Linked DNA regions of Homo sapiens. The protein of the gene in region 1 interacts with the protein of each later gene in a pairwise test. Each region holds a gene or a part of one and is shown in the gene's direction. Other genes may lie near its edges. The genes, in order: PAEP, HIBADH, IGSF21 and PCDHGA4.

What was found.
Region 2: the proteins of PAEP (region 1) and HIBADH interact in binary tests that used the Homo sapiens proteins (3 or more experiments, as listed by UniProt).
Region 3: the proteins of PAEP (region 1) and IGSF21 interact in a two-hybrid assay, tested with the Homo sapiens proteins (one large-scale study listed by BioGRID and IntAct).
Region 4: the proteins of PAEP (region 1) and PCDHGA4 interact in binary tests that used the Homo sapiens proteins (3 or more experiments, as listed by UniProt).

The regions. Positions count from the first base shown.
Region 1 is NC_000009.12:135,560,349-135,565,073, forward strand, and holds the start of PAEP (glycodelin isoform 1 precursor), read left to right. Parts: upstream 1-1,407; 5' UTR 1,408-1,453; coding exon 1,454-1,549; intron 1,550-1,945; coding exon 1,946-2,085; intron 2,086-2,471; coding exon 2,472-2,545; intron 2,546-3,895; coding exon 3,896-4,006; intron 4,007-4,725. UniProt on the Homo sapiens protein: Glycoprotein that regulates critical steps during fertilization and also has immunomonomodulatory effects. Four glycoforms, namely glycodelin-S, -A, -F and -C have been identified in reproductive tissues that differ in glycosylation and biological activity.
Region 2 is NC_000007.14:27,526,643-27,530,775, reverse strand, and holds part of HIBADH (3-hydroxyisobutyrate dehydrogenase, mitochondrial isoform 1 precursor), read left to right. Parts: intron 1-4,133.
Region 3 is NC_000001.11:18,106,277-18,110,845, forward strand, and holds the start of IGSF21 (immunoglobulin superfamily member 21 precursor), read left to right. Parts: upstream 1-1,521; 5' UTR 1,522-1,852; coding exon 1,853-1,922; intron 1,923-4,569. UniProt on the Homo sapiens protein: Involved in synaptic inhibition in the brain. Selectively regulates inhibitory presynaptic differentiation through interacting with presynaptic NRXN2.
Region 4 is NC_000005.10:141,353,530-141,358,138, forward strand, and holds the start of PCDHGA4 (protocadherin gamma-A4 isoform 1 precursor), read left to right. Parts: upstream 1-1,491; 5' UTR 1,492-1,578; coding exon 1,579-4,092; coding exon of another isoform or gene 4,093-4,134; exon of another isoform or gene 4,135-4,204; intron 4,205-4,609. UniProt on the Homo sapiens protein: Potential calcium-dependent cell-adhesion protein. May be involved in the establishment and maintenance of specific neuronal connections in the brain.

The DNA.
Region 1 (4,725 bases):
AATACAAACATTAGCCAGGTGTGGTGGTGGGCGCCTATAATCCCAGCTACTCTGGAGGCTGAAGCAGCAGGATTACTTGAACCTGGGATGCAGAGGTTGCAGTGAGTCAAGATCGTACCACTGCACTCCACCCTGGGCAACAGAGCAAGACTTGGCCTCAAAAAAATGTATATATGTATATATGTGTGTGTGTGTGTCACACACATGTCTATAGCTACCTACAAAATATCTTGCTGAGAATTTGATAGGAATTGCATTAAATCTCTAGGTTGAGTTGAGGAGAGCTAACACCTTTGCTGTGTTGAAGCTTCCAGCCCATGAACACATTGTGCCTGTCCTTTACCTTAGGTCTTTGATTTCCCTTCCTTGGGTTCAGAGTTTAAGTCCTGTCCATATTTGGTGAGATTTTTGCCTACATGCTGTGTGTGTGATTACAAATCCTGAATTTCCAGTTTCGGGTTCTGTCTACTCCTTGACACTGTGTGGGAACACGGTGGATTTTTGTGCGATTGACCTTGCTGACCTCACTCGGTTCTAGGAGGGGTTTTGTAGAGTTCTTGCAATTTTGTACCTGGGCAATGATGTTATATGCGAATAGAGACAGGTATACCTCCCCCTTCCCAATCTGCCTGCCTTTAGTTACCATTTCTTGCCTAGCTGCTCTGGCCGGAATGACCTGCTCTGATGGATGGGGGAGTGGGAGTGGACACCCGTGTCTTGCCTCAGGACTCAAGTGCTCTCCAGGGAGTGAGATGCGGGCTCGATTGTAAGTTACAAAGTGATGCTTCCCTGTGGGAAAAAGTACATCCAATATAGACTGTAGGACAAAGTCTGAAAGTCCACTGCCTCCCATTTCCACCCAGTCTTGCCTGTGAGTCAGAGAGAAACAGTGCTAACAGGCAGTGTGCACCTGTCCAGAGGCTGGCTGTTTGAGGGACACAGGTGTGCACACCTGGGGATGTCTGAGTGGAAGGTACAGGTCAGGATTATGACCGTGCAGTCAGTCACCCACTGGCATGATGTCTGTGGCATCCTGGGGCAGCCATGGGGCTCTCAGGCCCTCTGCCTGCCCCACAGGCCATACCCCTGCCCTGGACACAGCTGTCCTCAGTGCTGGCCTCTGACCCAACATTGTCCAGGAGCCCCAACCCAGAAGGTGCTCCCGCCGCTGCCAGCCTGGACCCGACCCAGGCCCCTCCCGCCTGAGGCCCTGCCAAGAACTGCCCAGCCCGGACACAGAGGAGGTTCCCGCGTGGACGCAGGGAAGAGCCTCCCATTGCCCCAGTGGAGGAAGCTGCCCAGGGGCCAAGGATGAGTCACAGGTTCGAGGAATCACATGGCGAGGCTGTGGGCGGGGATCTTGTCTGCCCTCCTCCTACATAAGGCCCCCTGAGCCCACACTGCCTCAGCATCCCTCTGGCTCCAGAGCTCAGAGCCACCCACAGCCGCAGCCATGCTGTGCCTCCTGCTCACCCTGGGCGTGGCCCTGGTCTGTGGTGTCCCGGCCATGGACATCCCCCAGACCAAGCAGGACCTGGAGCTCCCAAAGGTTTGAGGCTGGGGGAGCGGGCACTTTACTGTGGGAGGCCTGGGGCGGGTGGGAGCTGCGGGCAGGCAGGAAGCCCAGGATCTCAGAAACCTACAGGAAGCACAGAATGGACGCCATGACGTCAGGAAGCCCTCAGCCCTGCTCTCCATCTTTAGGGTGGCCTCTCTGGTTTCCCAGCATCCTAGGTGACTCATTATTTGGACTTTGGAACACTCCTGAGTTAGCACACACTGGTCATTTTAAGTACAGGAAATTTCATAGCCCAGGATCTGGTAGATAGCAGACAACCATCCAATGCTCACTGTACCCATCCCAGTTAGACTCAGCCCCGTCTGCACCGGGTGCAACGAGAGCCATGGTGGGGTGGGACCGCCGTGCAGCCCAAGGCCCCCTCAGTTGGCAGGGACCTGGCACTCCATGGCCATGGCGACCAACAACATCTCCCTCATGGCGACACTGAAGGCCCCTCTGAGGGTCCACATCACCTCACTGTTGCCCACCCCCGAGGACAACCTGGAGATCGTTCTGCACAGATGGTGGGTTTCTCATCATTGAGACGGGCTGGGCGGGGGCTCAGTCTCCCCCCTCAGGGGTCCAGGACTGGGTGGGTTGGGCGGAGCTGGACTTAGCCCCAGGCATTTTCTGACAGCCAGGGGCTTCACTGTGGCCCTTCCATGAGGGTGGGGTGGAAAACCAGGGCTCCAGACGTTCCCTGTCCCCTTGGATCCCCTGCCCCAGGCTCTGGGCCAACAGCCAACCACACAGTGCAGCCCCAGGTCAGACTGAGGAGAAGGTCTGGGCGGCTGCGGGCTGCGGTGCTCCTTGGACCCGGGGAAGTTCCCGTGGTGACCTGATTTTAGGAGTGACAGTGAAGGCAACTCCAATTCAAGTGGCCACTCATCCTATTGTCACCACCTTTCAGGGAGAACAACAGCTGTGTTGAGAAGAAGGTCCTTGGAGAGAAGACTGAGAATCCAAAGAAGTTCAAGATCAACTGTGAGTGTCCCCAGGCCCCAAGGGCTGGCTCAGTGCTGGCATGCTAGCCACGCTCTCCCAGAGGCGGCTCTGCTGGGGCATGAGGGAGTGGGGCCTGGCCTGTCCCCACTCTCTCTGCTTCAGGGAGTCAGAGTGTTTACTCCGGTCAACCTGATGCTGACCCCAGAGGCATCTTTTACCTGGAGGGCAGGGGAAGCACTAATTCTTGGCATGACATGACTGGATGTGGGTCTGCACTGTGCCCAGGCACAGGGGACAGGTGCTTTGTTGCACTGTTCACTCTGGCCTCACAAAAGGCCAGGGAGGCTGCAGGCGAGCAGGTGGGCAGGTGGGCAGGTGGGTAGGTGGGTAGGTGGATATGTATACAGGTGGGCAGGAGGGTAGGTGAACAGGTGGGTAGGTGGGCAGGTGGCTAGGTGAGTAAGTGGTTAGGTGAACAGGTGGGCAGGTGAGCAGGTGGTTAGGTGAACAGGTGGGCAGGTGGGTAGGTGGGTAGGTATACAGGTGGACAGGTGGGTAGGTGGACAGGTGGGCAGGTGAGTAGGTGAACAGGTGGGTGGGTGAACAGGTGGCCAGGTGAACAAGTTGGTAGGTGGGCAGGTGGGTAGGTGAACAGGTGGGCAGGTGGGCAGGTGGGCAGGTGGGCAGGTGGGCAAGTGGCTGCTGTTCCCGTGGGCCTGGCTGCCTCCTGCGCACTCTGGGGCTGCAGCTCTGGTCTTAGGCTGAGCTCCCAGGCCTCTCTGGGGGAAGAGAGAGGGGCTTACAGCATGTCCTTGGTCCACTGAATTCTTCCTAACAATTTGCAACATTTTGTTCTATTTTGTTAATTATTATTTTTTTAAAAAGACAGAGGTGGTCAGGGTCTGGGGCCTCTTATCCCCTCATGGGCACATTTTCCCAGCAAATACAGTTTGCTTCTCATGCTTGGGACTTGCCTCAGGCCTTTCTGACCCTGCTTGCCCTCCCCAGAATCGAGCCACTCTCCAAGGTCCATTTCTTCTCCCTCTTCCCGCCCCTGTGCCCTGTTCCTGTGCCATCTCCCGCCATCCTCACCCGTACGTGACTTCTCAGTTGGAGTCTCTCCAGGTCACAGCCTCCCTGCCTGCCGTGTCTGCCTCTCCACGGCACACCTGGCCTCTCCCCCTCAGCCGGGGCTCCATGGCCCTCCACATTGCCTCTCCTCCCCTTTCCTCCCTGGCTTCCCTGATCATGGTCCACAGCAGGGGCCACGTCCCATGGTGTCAGTGGATGAGGAAGCCACTTAGTGTGGTGGGATGTCCACACACCTGCACAGGACTCTGCTGAGACGGAGGCTTCATCTTCCTTTTGGTTCTTCTCTTCTTTCCCCAGATACGGTGGCGAACGAGGCCACGCTGCTCGATACTGACTACGACAATTTCCTGTTTCTCTGCCTACAGGACACCACCACCCCCATCCAGAGCATGATGTGCCAGTACCTGGGTGGGTCTCACAGCACATGAGCTCAACGTGGGTGAGAGGCAGCAGCTACGTCCGTGGCTGGGAACCCTGGGGAGCTGACAACTGGCTTCCTGTCCACCTCGGTGCCTGTGGGCTGACTTTTTTTTTCTTGGTTTTTTTTATTTGTTTGTTGTTTGCTTTGTTTTTTTGAGAAAGGGTCTCATTCTGTCACTCAGGCTGGAGTGTAGTGACGTGATCTCGGCTCACTGCAACTTCTGCCTCCCAGATTCAAGCGATTCTCGTGCCTCAGCCTCCAGAGTAGCTGGGATTACAGGCGCACGCCACCATGCCCAGCTAATTTTTGTATTTTTTGGTAGAGACGGGGTTTCACCATGTTGGCCAGGCTGGTCTCCAACTCCTGGATCAAGTGATCCACCCGCCTTGGCCTCCCAAAGGGCTGGGATTACAGGCGTGAGCCACCACGCCCGGCCAGGCTGAGTTTTTCTCCAGCGGTTCATCGAGTCCTCTGACAAAGCAAGGAGCTGATATAGGGCCAGTGGGACGGTCGCCAGTCAAGGGGCTGGGCTTGGTGGATAGATTAATACTCACTGGGCGTCCAGTCAAAACGCCCTGAAACCTATGATGCTGTCAACCAAACGAAGGCCAGGAATACCAAAATAGCCACATAGGCACAGCCCTTCCCCATGTTTCTGAGCACAGTGTTTCCTCTGGGGTCACACAGGTGTCTTCTTGATCAGCCT
Region 2 (4,133 bases), on another chromosome or scaffold:
ATAATAGATTTCCAAATACATCTTCCTGCTTTAAGATTTTAATATATGGATTTATATATAAAAACTAGTTAAGTCATTGGAAAAGCAAACTGTCATCCTTCTCTTATTTGAGATCTCAACTTTAGAAAGTCTATGTTCTCAACTACAGAAAATAATTTTTAGACCAGCTAACTTTCAGATTTCTGCAGTGCTTATTTTCTCCCAGTTGAGGGTTGGTTTTTGTTTGTTTGTTTGTTTGTTTGTTTTTCCTGATTAAAAAGTAAGAATACGGCCAGGCGCGATAGCTCATGCCTTTAATCCCAGCATTTTGGGAGGCCGAGGAGGGCAGATCACCTGAGGTCAGGAGTTCGAGACCAGCCTGGCTAACATGGTGAAACCCAGTTTCTACTAAAAATAAAAAAAATTAGTCGGGCGTGGTGGTGCGTGTCTGTAAGCCCAGCTACTCAGGAGGCTGAGGCAGGAGAATCGCTTGAACCCGGGAGGTGGAGATGGCAGTCAGCTGAGATAGCACCATTGCACTCCAGCCTGGGCAACAGAGTGAGACTTCGTCTCAAATAGAAAAAAAAAAAGAAAAAGAATACATATACCTAGATACCACACAAGCATACCTTGGAGATATTGTGGGTTCAGTTCCAGACAACCACAACAAGTCACACAAATTTTTTGGTTTCCCAGTACATATAAAAATTACGTTTATACTATGCCATAGTCTATTAAGTGTGCATTAGCATTATGTCTAAACAATATACGTATCTTAATTTTAAAATGCTCTATTGCTAAAAAAGCTAACAATTATCTGAGCCTTCAGTGAGTCATATAGTCCTTTTTTGCTGGTGGAAGGTCTTGCCTTGAGGTTGATGAATGGTGATTGACCAGGGTGGCGGTTGCTGAAGGTTGGGTGGCTATGACAATTTCTTAAAATAGGACAGTAATGAAGTTTAAGTTTACTGCATTGATTTACTCATCCTTTCACAGAAGATTTATGTGCTACTGTTTGATAGCATTTTACCCACAGTAGAACTTCTTTCAAAAACGGAGGCAATCCTCTCAAACCCTGATGCTACTTTATCAACTAAGTTTGTGTAATATTCTAAATCCTTTCTGTCATTTCACCAGGAGTAGATCCATCTCAAGAAACCACTTTCTTTGCTCATCCATAAGAAGCAACTCCTCATCCCTTCAAGTTTAGCACAAGATTGTAGTAATTCAGTCACATCTGCAGGCTCCACTTCTAATTCTAGTTCTCCTATTTCCACCACGTCTGCAGTGACTTTCTCCATTGAAGTCTTAAAGGCCTCAAAGTTATCCATGAGCATTGGAATCAGCTTCTTTCAAACTCCTGTTAATGTTGATATTTTGACCTCCTCCCATGAATCACAAATATTCTTAATGGCATCTAGAATGGTGAATTATTTTCATAAGGTTTCAGTTTACTCTGCCCAGAGCTGTCAGAGGAATCACTATATATGGTAGCTATTGCCTTATGAAATACTTCTCACATAAGAGTTGAAAAATGACTCTTTGATCCATGGGCTACAGAATGGATGTTGTGTTCATAGACATGAAAACAACATTAATCTCCCTGTACATCTCCATCAGCACTCTTGGGTGACCACGTGTACTGTCAGTGAGCAGTCGTATTTTGAAAGGAATCTTTTCTTCTGACCAGTAGGTCTCAACAGTGGGCTTAAAATAAATATTCAGTAAACCATCCCATAAACAGATGTGCTTTCTTCTAGACTTTGCTGTTCCATTTGGAGAGCACAGGCAGAGTAGATTCAGCATAATTCTTAAGGGCCCTAGGATTTTTGGAATGGTAAATGAGCATTGGCTTCAACTTCAAGTCCCCAGCTGCACTGGCCCTTAACAAGAGGGTTAGCCTGTCCTTTGATGCTTTGGAAACAGACATTGACTTCTCTTTAGCTGCGAAAGTCCTAGATGATATCTTCCAACAGCAGGCTGTTTCATCTACACTGAAAATCTGTTGTTTAGTGTGGCTACCCTCATCAGTGATAGCTGGATCTTCTGGATAACTAACTTCCTGCAGTTTCTCCATCAGCAGTTGCTGCTTCACCTTCCACTTTTATGTTATGGAGATGGCTTCTTTGCTTAAACCTCATGAACTAATCACTACTAGCTTCACACGTCTTCTGCAGCTTCCTCACCTCTCTCAGCCTTCACAGAATTGAAGAAAGTTAGGGCCTTGTTCTGGGTTAAGCTTTGGTTTAAGGGAATGTTTTGGCTGGTTTGATCTATCCAGACCACTCAAACTTACTCCCTATCAGCAGTAAGGCCGTTTCACTTATCATTCATGTGTTCACTGGAATAGCATTTGTAATTTTCTTCAAGAATTTTTTCTTTGCATTCTACTGTTTGTTTTAATGGGCCTGCCTTTCAGCCTGTCTTGATTTTCTACATGCCTTCCTCACTAAGCTTAATCATTTCTAGCTTTTGATTTAAAGTGTGAGACAGCTGACTCCTCTTTTCATTTGAACACTTAAGAGGCCATTGTAGGGTTATTAATTGGCCTAATTTCAATATTTTGTGTCTCAGGGAATAGGGAGGCCTGAGGGGTAAGAGAGAGAGAGCTGCCATTCAGTGGCTGGGCAGTCAGAACACATGTGTACCACATTTATCGATTATGTTTGCCATCTTATGTGCGCTTTCTGACACCCCAAAACAGTTTCAATAGTAACATCAAAGATCACTGATCGGCTGGGCACAGTGGCTCATGCCTGTAATCCCAGCACTTTGGGAGGCCGAGGCAGGTGTATCACCTGAAGTTAGGAGTTTGAAACCAGCCTGGCCAACATGGTGAAACCCTGTCTCTACTAAAAAAAAAAAAAAAAAAAAAAAACGCTGGGTGTGGTGGTGGCAAATGCCTGTAATCCCAGCTGCTCAGGAGGCTGCGGGAGGAGAATCACTTGAACCCAGGAGGCAGAGGTTGCTGTGAGCCAAGATTGCGCCACTACACTCCAGCCTGGGCAACAAGAGAGAAACTCCGTCTCAAAAAAAAAAAAGTTACTGATTGATTGCAGATCACCGTAACAGAAATAATAGTAATGAAAAAGTTTGAAATATTGTGAGAATTACCAAAATGTGACAGCTGCATGAACTGGGCACATGCTGTTGGAAAAACAGTGCTGATAGACTTGCTCAATGCAGGATTGCCACAAACCTTCAATTATTAAAATACAAAAACAAACATGCATTATCTGTGAAGCATGATAAAGTGAAGCACACTAAGACAAGATGTGCCCATACTTGGCTTACTCTCCCTCATTCCCCATGACGTTTGTTCATTCTGCTTCTTGAATATGCCTTGAATTCATCCAGCTCCCTCCTCCCCAGCTAGCTGTACCTTGGCTGAGCCTCGTTTGTGTTGTACCACAAATACATCTTAACTGATCTTGTCTTTCAGCCTGATCTTCTCCAGTTTATTTTCCATATCAAAGCAAGAGTGAGCTTTCTAAAATGTAAAATCCTGATTGTGTCACTTCTCCTTTGAAGCTTTTGTAGTTTCAGTTACTTGGAGATTAAAGTCCATCCCTGCAACTTGTCTGACAAGCCCCCAGATGCCTTGGCTTTTGCTTGCCTCAACCAGACTGATTTTCTTTCCCATCCCCCTCTCCTTGCTTTCATCGTGCTGAACTCACTTCTCCCTCTTGTTCTGTCTCTTGGAAACCTTCACATTTGCTTCACATTTGCTGTCACATTGTCTGCCAGGATGGATCATTCTTCCTTGCCCACCACCTCCCTGCCACCCCCATGTTTTCACCTGGCTCCAGGTCTGTGCTTCACTGTCTTCTTTTTCTTCACCTTTCCCAGCACCCCAGACCCTGCTTCCTTGGATCCCATGATAGTACTCCTCCTATCCAATTATACCATGCTTATTTAATTGTCTTTCTCCTTAACACAATGTGAGTTTGGGTGGGCTGTGGCTGTTTTGCTCATCATTTTATCCCAGCTTCTGGCACATTGTCAGCACACTTCAAATATTTATTGGATGAAGTAATATTTGCAACTGTATTTCCTGTTTTGCAGTTTTATTTCTCCTTGTTTTCATTTAAGAATTTTTTAAAAAAAATTTATGTCTTAAAGATTTCCACAGATAAGATTACACAGGGAAATTT
Region 3 (4,569 bases), on another chromosome or scaffold:
CTGGAACCAATTAGTCTGATTCACAAAAAAAAAAAAAAAAAAAAAAAAAAAAAATCCCACTTAGGGACAAACTGTAATCAAACACCTATTTATAAGGGTTTATTATGATCATTATTATTATTTTACTGAGAGGATCATTCTAAAGCCTGTCAGGTGAACGTATGCTTTCAGATCTTCATAAATGCAAATCGCTCCTTCTGGGGTGGGTGAGCAAGCTGAGCCGCAGAGCTGCCTTGGGAGGCGATGGGGTGAGGTTCCAGAGGGCAGGAGGAGGGAGCAGTTCACTTTCATGGACATCTCTGCACAAAGCTCACCCAGAGGCAGCCCAGCAACCACCCATTGCCCACCCCACTCCCTACACTCCTCTCAGAGGGCTGCTGGAGATGGAACTGGCTATAGACCCATTGCCCATGTAGGTAAACGATGCAACAGCCTGACTCAGCAACCTGCCAGAGCTAGGGAAGCTGGAGATTCTCCATAGAAGGCCTGGGTAAAGGGACCCACCTGAGTTCTGAGCAGGTTTTGCCCCTGGTCGTGCTGGTTTTTCTGGGCTTTGCCAATCTTCTGGGTCCCTACCAATGGTGAAATTCTATCTCCTGAACTTCCTCATCTAACCACATCCCCAGTCCACTCCAAGGGCTAGAGTACCCCTCCCCTTCATCCTCGCAGGAGGCCTCAAAGTCCACCGCCAGGGCTGAGGCTCAATGGTGTGTGTGTGTGTGTGTGTGTGTGTGTGTGTGTGCTCGCGTGTGTGTTGGTGGGAGAGTAATGGTAACATACAAGTCCCAAACCTGTTCTTCTCGGACCTGGGAAGAAAAGCTGTCAGGTCTGGCAAAAAGGTGGAAACTTGGTCTCTGCCAGGAGGAAACAATCAGTTCCTCACCCTTCCTGGCTGGATCCTAGCACATGGGAAAAAGACAGAACACACCCCATTTCCGTGGGTCCCTGGGGGAAGGAGCAGCCGTAATTGGGGAAGTTTCAGAACATGGAAACCCCTTAATCTTGCCCAATGAGGGCATTCATCGTTGGCAAGGTCAGAACTCCAGAGCCACACCCTGCCTGCCCTGCTCCCAGGATGGCATCTTTCCCTCTCGGGAGGGAGGCTGCCTCCTTTCATCAGGCTGAGTAGCGGGGAGGGCGATGGTAATCCCGGGGATAGGAGGGGCTAGGTAAAGGCGGATCCGATGGAGCATAGCTTCCAGGGCGGGGTGTTGGGTCACCTGGGTAAGGGTTAAGAAGCTGGAGGCAGCAAGCCAGTTTTGAGTGAGGGGGGACCTGAGTGAGGGGAGAGGGGAGGTTAGGAGGGGGTGAGCTCTCCTTCTCCCTGCAATAAATCGGCTTAGCGGACGAGAGCCGAACAGCCCAGAAAGGATTAAAGAAAAGTCTGTATAATACGCGGAGAGCGCGGCGAGGGGAGGGCAAGGAGGGCGGGGGGGCGGGGAGAGGGGGAGGGACGGAGGGAGGGCGAGAGGAGGGGGGTGCTCGCGCCGCCGGGAGAGGCGAGCGCGAGGCAGAGAGCGCGATTCGGCTCCAAACTCCGGCGCTGCAGCCGATCGGACTCTGGGCCGCGGTGGGCACCGCGCGCAGCTAGGGAGCCGAGAACCGCGGCGAGCCCCGAGGACGCCCAGAGCGCGAGGGTCGCTGCGCCTCGCAGAGCCGGAGCCGAGTCGAGCCGGGCGCCCGGGCTGCCTGGCCGCGGCGGCATGGGGGCGCCCCCGCGGCTCTCCGCGCTGCCCGCCACCGCCTCGGCCAGTGGCCGGAGGCAGGAGCGCGTCTGAGCCCATGGCGAGGGGACCCGCCGCCACCGCCTCCACCCCCGCCGCCCCGCCACCGCCGCCAGCTCCCGGGCACCATGCGAACCGCCCCGAGCCTCCGCCGCTGCGTCTGCCTGCTGCTCGCCGCGATCCTGGACCTGGCGCGCGGTGAGTGCGCGGGCGCCTGGCGGGAGCCGAGCGGTGAACGTGCGCGGGGACGGGGTGCCGGGGGAGGGCGCTGGCCGGGGTCGCTCCGAGAGGCTCGGGCTACGAGCACCGGTCCTGCCCGGGGTCTGTGGAGCTGGTTGGCTCGATGAGGGAGGGAGGACGCCTCTTGGAGAGCGCTCATGGATTTGTGCCAGGGTGTGTGTGTGTGTGTAAATTGTGTGTCTTTGTTGTGTGTCTGGGTGAGGGTGTCCGGGAAGGAGCTGTGTGGGCAGAAGGTGCGGGAGTGTATTTAGAGATGCAAGTGTGTGTGTGCGTGTGTGTGTGATGGTGTGGGGTCTGCGTGTGAGTGAGCGAGGGTCTGGATGGGTGTTAGAGTGTCTGTGTCAGTTACATGGAGAAGGTGTGTGTGTGAGAGTGTGAGCGAATGTTGGGGGGAGGGTGTGAACATGTGCCACCTTCCCTGTGAGGGTGTGAAGTGTGTGAGCTTGTGTCACTGTGGGTGTGAGGTGTTAGGGGGTGGGTATGTGAGGTTTGGCGTTTCACGTGTGTCCCGAGTGTGCAGGTCTCTAGGGGTGTACGACAGCGGATTACTATTTCTGTGTGCACAGGAGATGGGACTGTGACACTGGACAAGAGTCTGCTTATGTGGGATGGGTGGGGGTGCAGGTGCCTGGGAGTCGTGGGCTTCATGGGGCTGGGAGTGTGTGTATGCGTGCCATGGAGCGTGTGGTTATCGTGTGCAGGGAGGTATGGACGCTTCCGGGGCTGGGGAGTTGTGAGCAGCTCAGTGTGTGTGTGTGTGTGTGTGTGTGTGTGTCCCGCCGTGTGGACTTGCTCCCGGGTTAGGCTAAGACAGCTAGAAGGAGGTTGAAGCCGAGCGGGTTCTCCGGAGCCAGTGAGAGGTGGCTCCGCAGCCCCAGGGTCCGCGGCCGGCCTCCCACCCAGTGCCGCCGCGTAGTGGGTCTTAAATGGAGCTGAACCCTTTCGCGCAGTGAGCAGAGAGCCAACGTGAGGCTAAAAGCCAGGAGGGAGGGAGGCGGGACCAGCGAAGAGCCGCAGGCACCGAGACTACAGGCTCCGCGTCCGGGATCCTCCTCGGAGCCTGGTGCCAACCTCAGCCTGGCTGGAGTCAGAGCCTGGCTCCGCCTCGGAGGGGAGCGGGACGCGAGGTGCCAAAAAGTCGTCTTTATGATCAATAAGGTCTCGACCCCGAGCCCCACTGGATGATAGAGGTGGGCATCACCTCTGTCCTATGCCATAGCCTTGTCCCAGCAGGAGGTGCCTACCTAGGCTCTGAGAGTGCCTGCCAGGAAGGGGTGCCCCCTTAAAAATAACCCCAACTCCTTCTACCCCGAAGTCCTTGGGGAGTGCTGGGTCTGCTGATGGGAGAAGCTGCAGAATTTGAGCCCGGAAGGTGGTCCTGACAGCGAGGGGGGAGGGGTTGGTGTAACCCAGAAGGAATGCAAACCCTGTACTTTGTTCCCCTACCCTTGGAACAAGAGACTTTCCTAAGTGGATCAAAATGTCCCCCCTCAACTTTGGGAGGAGGGCTCTAGAGGGAAAGGTTACATGGGGGAGGTCCTCGTTCCAGCGCCGCCGAGAGGGCACTGGGGTTTGTTGAAAGGCACTGGAGCCCTCACCTGGACATTGCAGGGGGCGGGGGTTGGAGGCTGGGGACCTAAGGTAAGCACCCCTTTCCCTGGGAATGCGCAGAACAGAGAGACGCGGCAGGGTGAAGGAGAGGACTGATGAGAAGGGCTTGTTGGGAAACCCTGGCTCCGTCAGGACCCCACCCTGCGAGCTCTCCCTGGAACCCGGGAGCAGGGTTCTTCTGGCTGCCCGGCTGCAGAGAGCTGACCCGGCATCCTGACGCCTCAAATCCCTTTGCCCGCCTCTGCGGGCTGCGGGAGGCGGGGGTTGGCGTGCCTGAGGGTGAGCGCATCTGGGCCGGTGCAGCCAGCGCGGCCTCGGAGCTCCGCTGCTCAGGATGAAGGAAGAGCGCAGACGCGGATCGCGAATGGGAAACTTTCCGCGTCTGGGGCGCAGAGGGAGATCCGAGGCAGCCGGGAGCCCTCTCTTCTCCGCAGAGGAGAGCACACGAGGGTGGGGTCCCTCCTTCCTCCTTCCAAGTCTGTGCCCAGAATGGGGGGCGGGGTGCGAGAAGAGTCCGTGAGAGACGCAAGAGGCGGGCTGTGCCGGAGGAGGGCGCCCTTCCTGGAGGTGGCCGAGAGAGGTGCACCTGGCAGCGGCTTTGCAGGGCCACCTGCCTCCGAGGGCGCAGAGAGGAGCAACCCGCGCCGGCCTTCACGAACGTACTGGCGGTCACTGCTCGGGGAGGGGCACGGCCAGAACGCCCTCGCCGGTTCTGCCCCTTTGGGTGGCAGAGCAAGGGTGCCCGACGCTAGAGAGTCGGGTCTGGCAGGAGGAAGGAGGCCGCTGCCCCTCGCACTGGCTGGGCCGGAAGTCCTTGCCCTGGCTCCCCACTTCCCAGAATCAGACCCTCCAAAGGAGAAACCCACATTTCTCGGGACTCCTGGGCGTGTCCTGGGGCGTTTTCAACTCCTCCAGCCCCCGTGAACCGTGCCTGGGCACTTCTGGGAAGTCCTGCACTGGAGCCTGTGCAGTGGCGCCGGGCTGGGGATGGAGG
Region 4 (4,609 bases), on another chromosome or scaffold:
GCATCACTAACTTTGAGTCAATATTATTCCCACTCTATAATTTCAGTCAATGATATTTCATAATTTTCTTAACCATTCCTAAATTATTTGTTTTTATGCTCTTTCTATTTTGTCTCTATTAAAACAAAGAATGTAATGAACATTTGGGTTTATAAAGCGTTTTCCATACTTCTTGTTTCTTTAGTGTAGATTTCTGAGGAATTAGTTAAATCTATAAACATGTTGAGATTTTTTTAATGCATACTGTCAAATTTATTTCCAAACATCTTATTTCACCTCTCAATCATCCGCAGTTTGTGCGGTCTTTGAGGATTGTGAAAAACACGTTTAATCTACTCTCTCAAAGTCTGAGGGTTTTTAAATTCTGTATAGCTAATGCCCTTTTGTATGAGTCATTTCTACTGCTAATTGTTAAGTGAGGAATAAGCTTAAGAACTGATGTACTGCTTTATCTCAAATTTTCACAGATTAGTAAATTACTGTAAGTATTCATAAGAAAGAAAGCGATGGCACATGCAATGATAATCCATGTTCGGCTACCAAAACATTTCCTTTTACTGGCTATTTCTAAAATGAGAGCTAAAGTAAAGTTAGAAATTGTAAAATAATACTGAATGTGTCATGTGAAAAAATCACTAAACTATTATCTGCACTTTATAGTTATTCAGTCTAACTTTTCTTTTTATTTCTTTTTTATTTTTAAGATCAGAGTTATTTACCCATTGTTTTAGGCTTTGCATTTGAACTGGTCATTCATGAAACATTGAAAGGTTTCATAAAAATTACTACTCTATGAAAGGTATTGTTCTAAAGATTGAGAACACATTGTGAACAAGATAGTCATATGCATAGCTTGTGGCCAAGAATCTACTGTACACAAAATTAAGGAGCAAATTCTCTTCCCAAACCTATTATCCTATTTGTCAATCTCATTTGTACAGGGTAAGGCTAACTCTTGAACAGTAGGTGAGTTTTTTGCAAGGGAATTGAAGCATTGCCCCAGGTTCTAGAGGGTCAACTCCTGTGAGGAAACTTGTTACTGCATAAATTGGGACTAAAGCCAGACCTCCAAGTTCCTGTCCCACTGTCTTTTCACTTATCTGTCTCATCCATTTTTCAAGTCCACCTTTGTCTTTAGGAGAGATAATTATGTCCCTCACACAATACGCTATACTGAGAATGGGCTGTGGGGATGAACAATGTGAAAACTGAAAAGAGGAAGAACACATCTTAGGAAAAAAATCGTCATATTTTCTCTAAGAAAATAAATAACTTCATAAAGTTTATTGTACAGGAAGACTTGGATCATTCTTGAATTTTCATTGCAAATCAAAAACAGGAATTTGACTTTATTATCTTGGGAGAAATAGGAATAGAAAAGTGTATAAAAAATAAACTTTTTTTAACCAAGAATAAATTGCAGTAACAGGTTAAGACTCTGGGTGTCGCTGTTCACCAATCAGGGGGAAAAGACAAACCAGAAATTTAATCAGAATCACAAGATTTCTGCAGCACAAAGCACTGGCTCTGGAGCTTTATGAAAGCTTCAAGCGGAAGCCCTGAGAGCTCTGGCTGTGAATGCACTTTATTTTGGACCCAGAAGATCCTGGGGCTCCTCAGGCCTCGACAGAGGGAAAACCGAAGCACAGGCGACTCCGCGGCGGGGTTGTAATGGCGGCGCCTCCTGCTCGCCCAGACCACACCCGGCTGCTCCAGATCTGCCTTCTCCTGGGGGTTCTGGTGGAAATCAGGGCCGAACAGATTCTCTACTCGGTGTTTGAGGAGCAGGAAGAAGGCTCAGTGGTGGGCAACATCGCCAAGGACCTGGGGTTGGCGCCCCGGGAGCTGGCGGAGCGCGGAGTCCGCATCGTCTCCAGAGGTAGGACGCAGCTTTTCGCCCTGAACCCGCGCAGCGGCACCTTGGTCACCGCGGGTAGGATAGACAGGGAGGAGCTCTGCGACAGATCTCCAAACTGTGTGACAAACCTGGAGATTCTTCTAGAAGATACAGTGAAGATTTTGCGGGTAGAGGTGGAAATAATCGATGTTAATGATAACCCACCCAGTTTTGGGACAGAACAGAGGGAAATAAAAGTTGCTGAAAATGAAAATCCTGGGGCAAGATTTCCTCTTCCTGAAGCTTTTGATCCGGATGTAGGTGTAAACTCCCTGCAGGGTTACCAGCTCAACTCAAACGGTTACTTTTCCCTGGACGTGCAAAGTGGGGCCGATGGGATTAAGTACCCAGAGCTGGTGCTGGAACGCGCTCTAGATCGCGAGGAAGAGGCGGTTCACCACCTCGTTCTCACGGCCTTCGATGGAGGTGACCCGGTTCGCTCTGGCACTGCCAGGATTCTCATAATACTTGTGGATACCAACGATAATGCTCCCGTGTTCACTCAGCCCGAGTACCACGTAAGTGTTCGTGAGAACGTTCCTGTAGGCACTCGGCTACTCACCGTAAAAGCCACTGATCCAGATGAAGGAGCCAATGGAGACGTGACGTATTCTTTCCGGAAAGTAAGAGACAAAATATCACAGCTATTTCAGTTGAATTCTCTGAGTGGGGATATAACAATATTGGGGGGTCTAGATTATGAGGACTCTGGATTCTATGACATAGATGTAGAAGCCCATGATGGGCCTGGTCTCCGAGCTAGAAGCAAGGTACTGGTGACAGTTCTGGATGAAAATGACAACGCACCAGAAGTCACAGTTACATCTCTCACCAGCTCAGTCCAGGAATCTTCTTCCCCGGGTACAGTAATTGCACTTTTCAACGTGCATGACAGTGACTCAGGAGGAAATGGCCTAGTCACATGTTCTATTCCAGATAATCTGCCATTCACACTTGAAAAGACCTATGGAAATTATTATCGGTTGTTGACACACAGAACACTGGACAGGGAAGAAGTCTCAGAATATAACATCACTGTAACTGCCACTGACCAGGGAACTCCTCCACTGTCTACAGAAACTCATATTTCACTGCAAGTGATGGACATCAATGACAACCCACCCACTTTCCCTCATGCTTCCTACTCTGCTTACATTCCTGAAAACAACCCCAGAGGAGCCTCCATCTTATCTATGACTGCTCAAGACCCTGACAGTGGTGACAATGCCCGAATCACTTACTCCCTGGCCGAAGACACCTTCCAGGGTGCACCTCTGTCCTCCTATGTCTCCATCAACTCCAATACAGGGATCCTATATGCTCTTTGCTCCTTCGACTATGAGCAGTTTAGAGACCTGCAGCTGCTGATGACAGCCAGTGACAGTGGAGACCCTCCACTCAGCAGCAATGTGTCACTGAGCCTCTTTGTGCTGGACCAGAACGACAATGTCCCTGAGATCCTGTACCCCACCTTCCCTACTGATGGCTCCACTGGTGTGGAGCTGGCACCCCGCTCCGCAGATTCCGGCTACCTGGTGACCAAAGTGGTGGCAGTGGACAGAGACTCAGGTCAGAATGCCTGGCTGTCCTACAGCCTACTCAAGTCCAGCGAGCCGGGACTATTTGCAGTGGGGCTGCACACAGGCGAGGTGCGCACCGCACGGGCCCTGCTGGACAGAGACGCGCTCAAGCAGAGGCTTGTAGTGGTCGTCCAGGACCATGGCCAGCCCCCTCTCTCGGCCACCGTCACACTCACTGTGGCTGTGGCCGACAGCATCCCAGATGTCCTGGCTGACTTGGGCAGCCTCAAGCCTTCAGCAGACCCAGACGACTCGGGCCTCACACTCTATCTCGTGGTGGCAGTGGCCGCTGTCTCCTGCGTCTTCCTGGCTTTTGTCACGGTGCTGCTAGCACTCAAGCTGAGACGCTGGCACAAGTCACGCCTGCTTCACGCTGAAGGCAGCAGGTTGGCAGGTGTGCCTGCCTCGCACTTTGTGGGCGTGGACGGGGTTCGGGCTTTCCTGCAGACCTATTCCCACGAGGTCTCCCTCACCGCGGACTCGCGGAAGAGTCACCTGATCTTCTCCCAACCCAGCTATGCAGACACGCTCATCAGCCGGGAGAGTTGTGAGAAAAGCGAGCCTCTTCTGATAACTCAGGATTTACTTGAAACAAAAGGAGACCCTAATCTTCAGGTGAGTCAATCTTATAATAGATCATACCACACTGAAATATAGACAAAGAGTTGTGTAAATGTCTCTCATTTTATATGTAATATATCAAATAAAGTTGCCTCTTTTAATATTTTATTGCTTTAAAGAAAACTGGTGGATGACCTTCCAATAATGATCAACAGTATTTACCACACAAAAATGTTGTTTATTACTTATCCTTTTTGGTCTTCATTCAGTTGTAGTTTCAGCCAGAATTTTCTAATTTTACAACTCTGAGCCACCTCATTTCCTTAAATTTCCTTTTCTGTGCTGGGTGTGGTGGCTCACACCTGTAATCCTAACACTTTGGGAGTGTGAGGAGGACGGATTGCCTGAGCTCAGGAGTTCGAGACCAGTCTGGGCAACATGGTGAAACCCAGTCTCTACTAAAATACAAAAAGTTAGCTAGGCGTGGTGGTGTGTGCCCGTAGTCCCAGCTACCCTGGAGGCTGAGGCATGAGAATTGCTTGAACCTGGGAGGCAGAGGTTGCAATGAGCT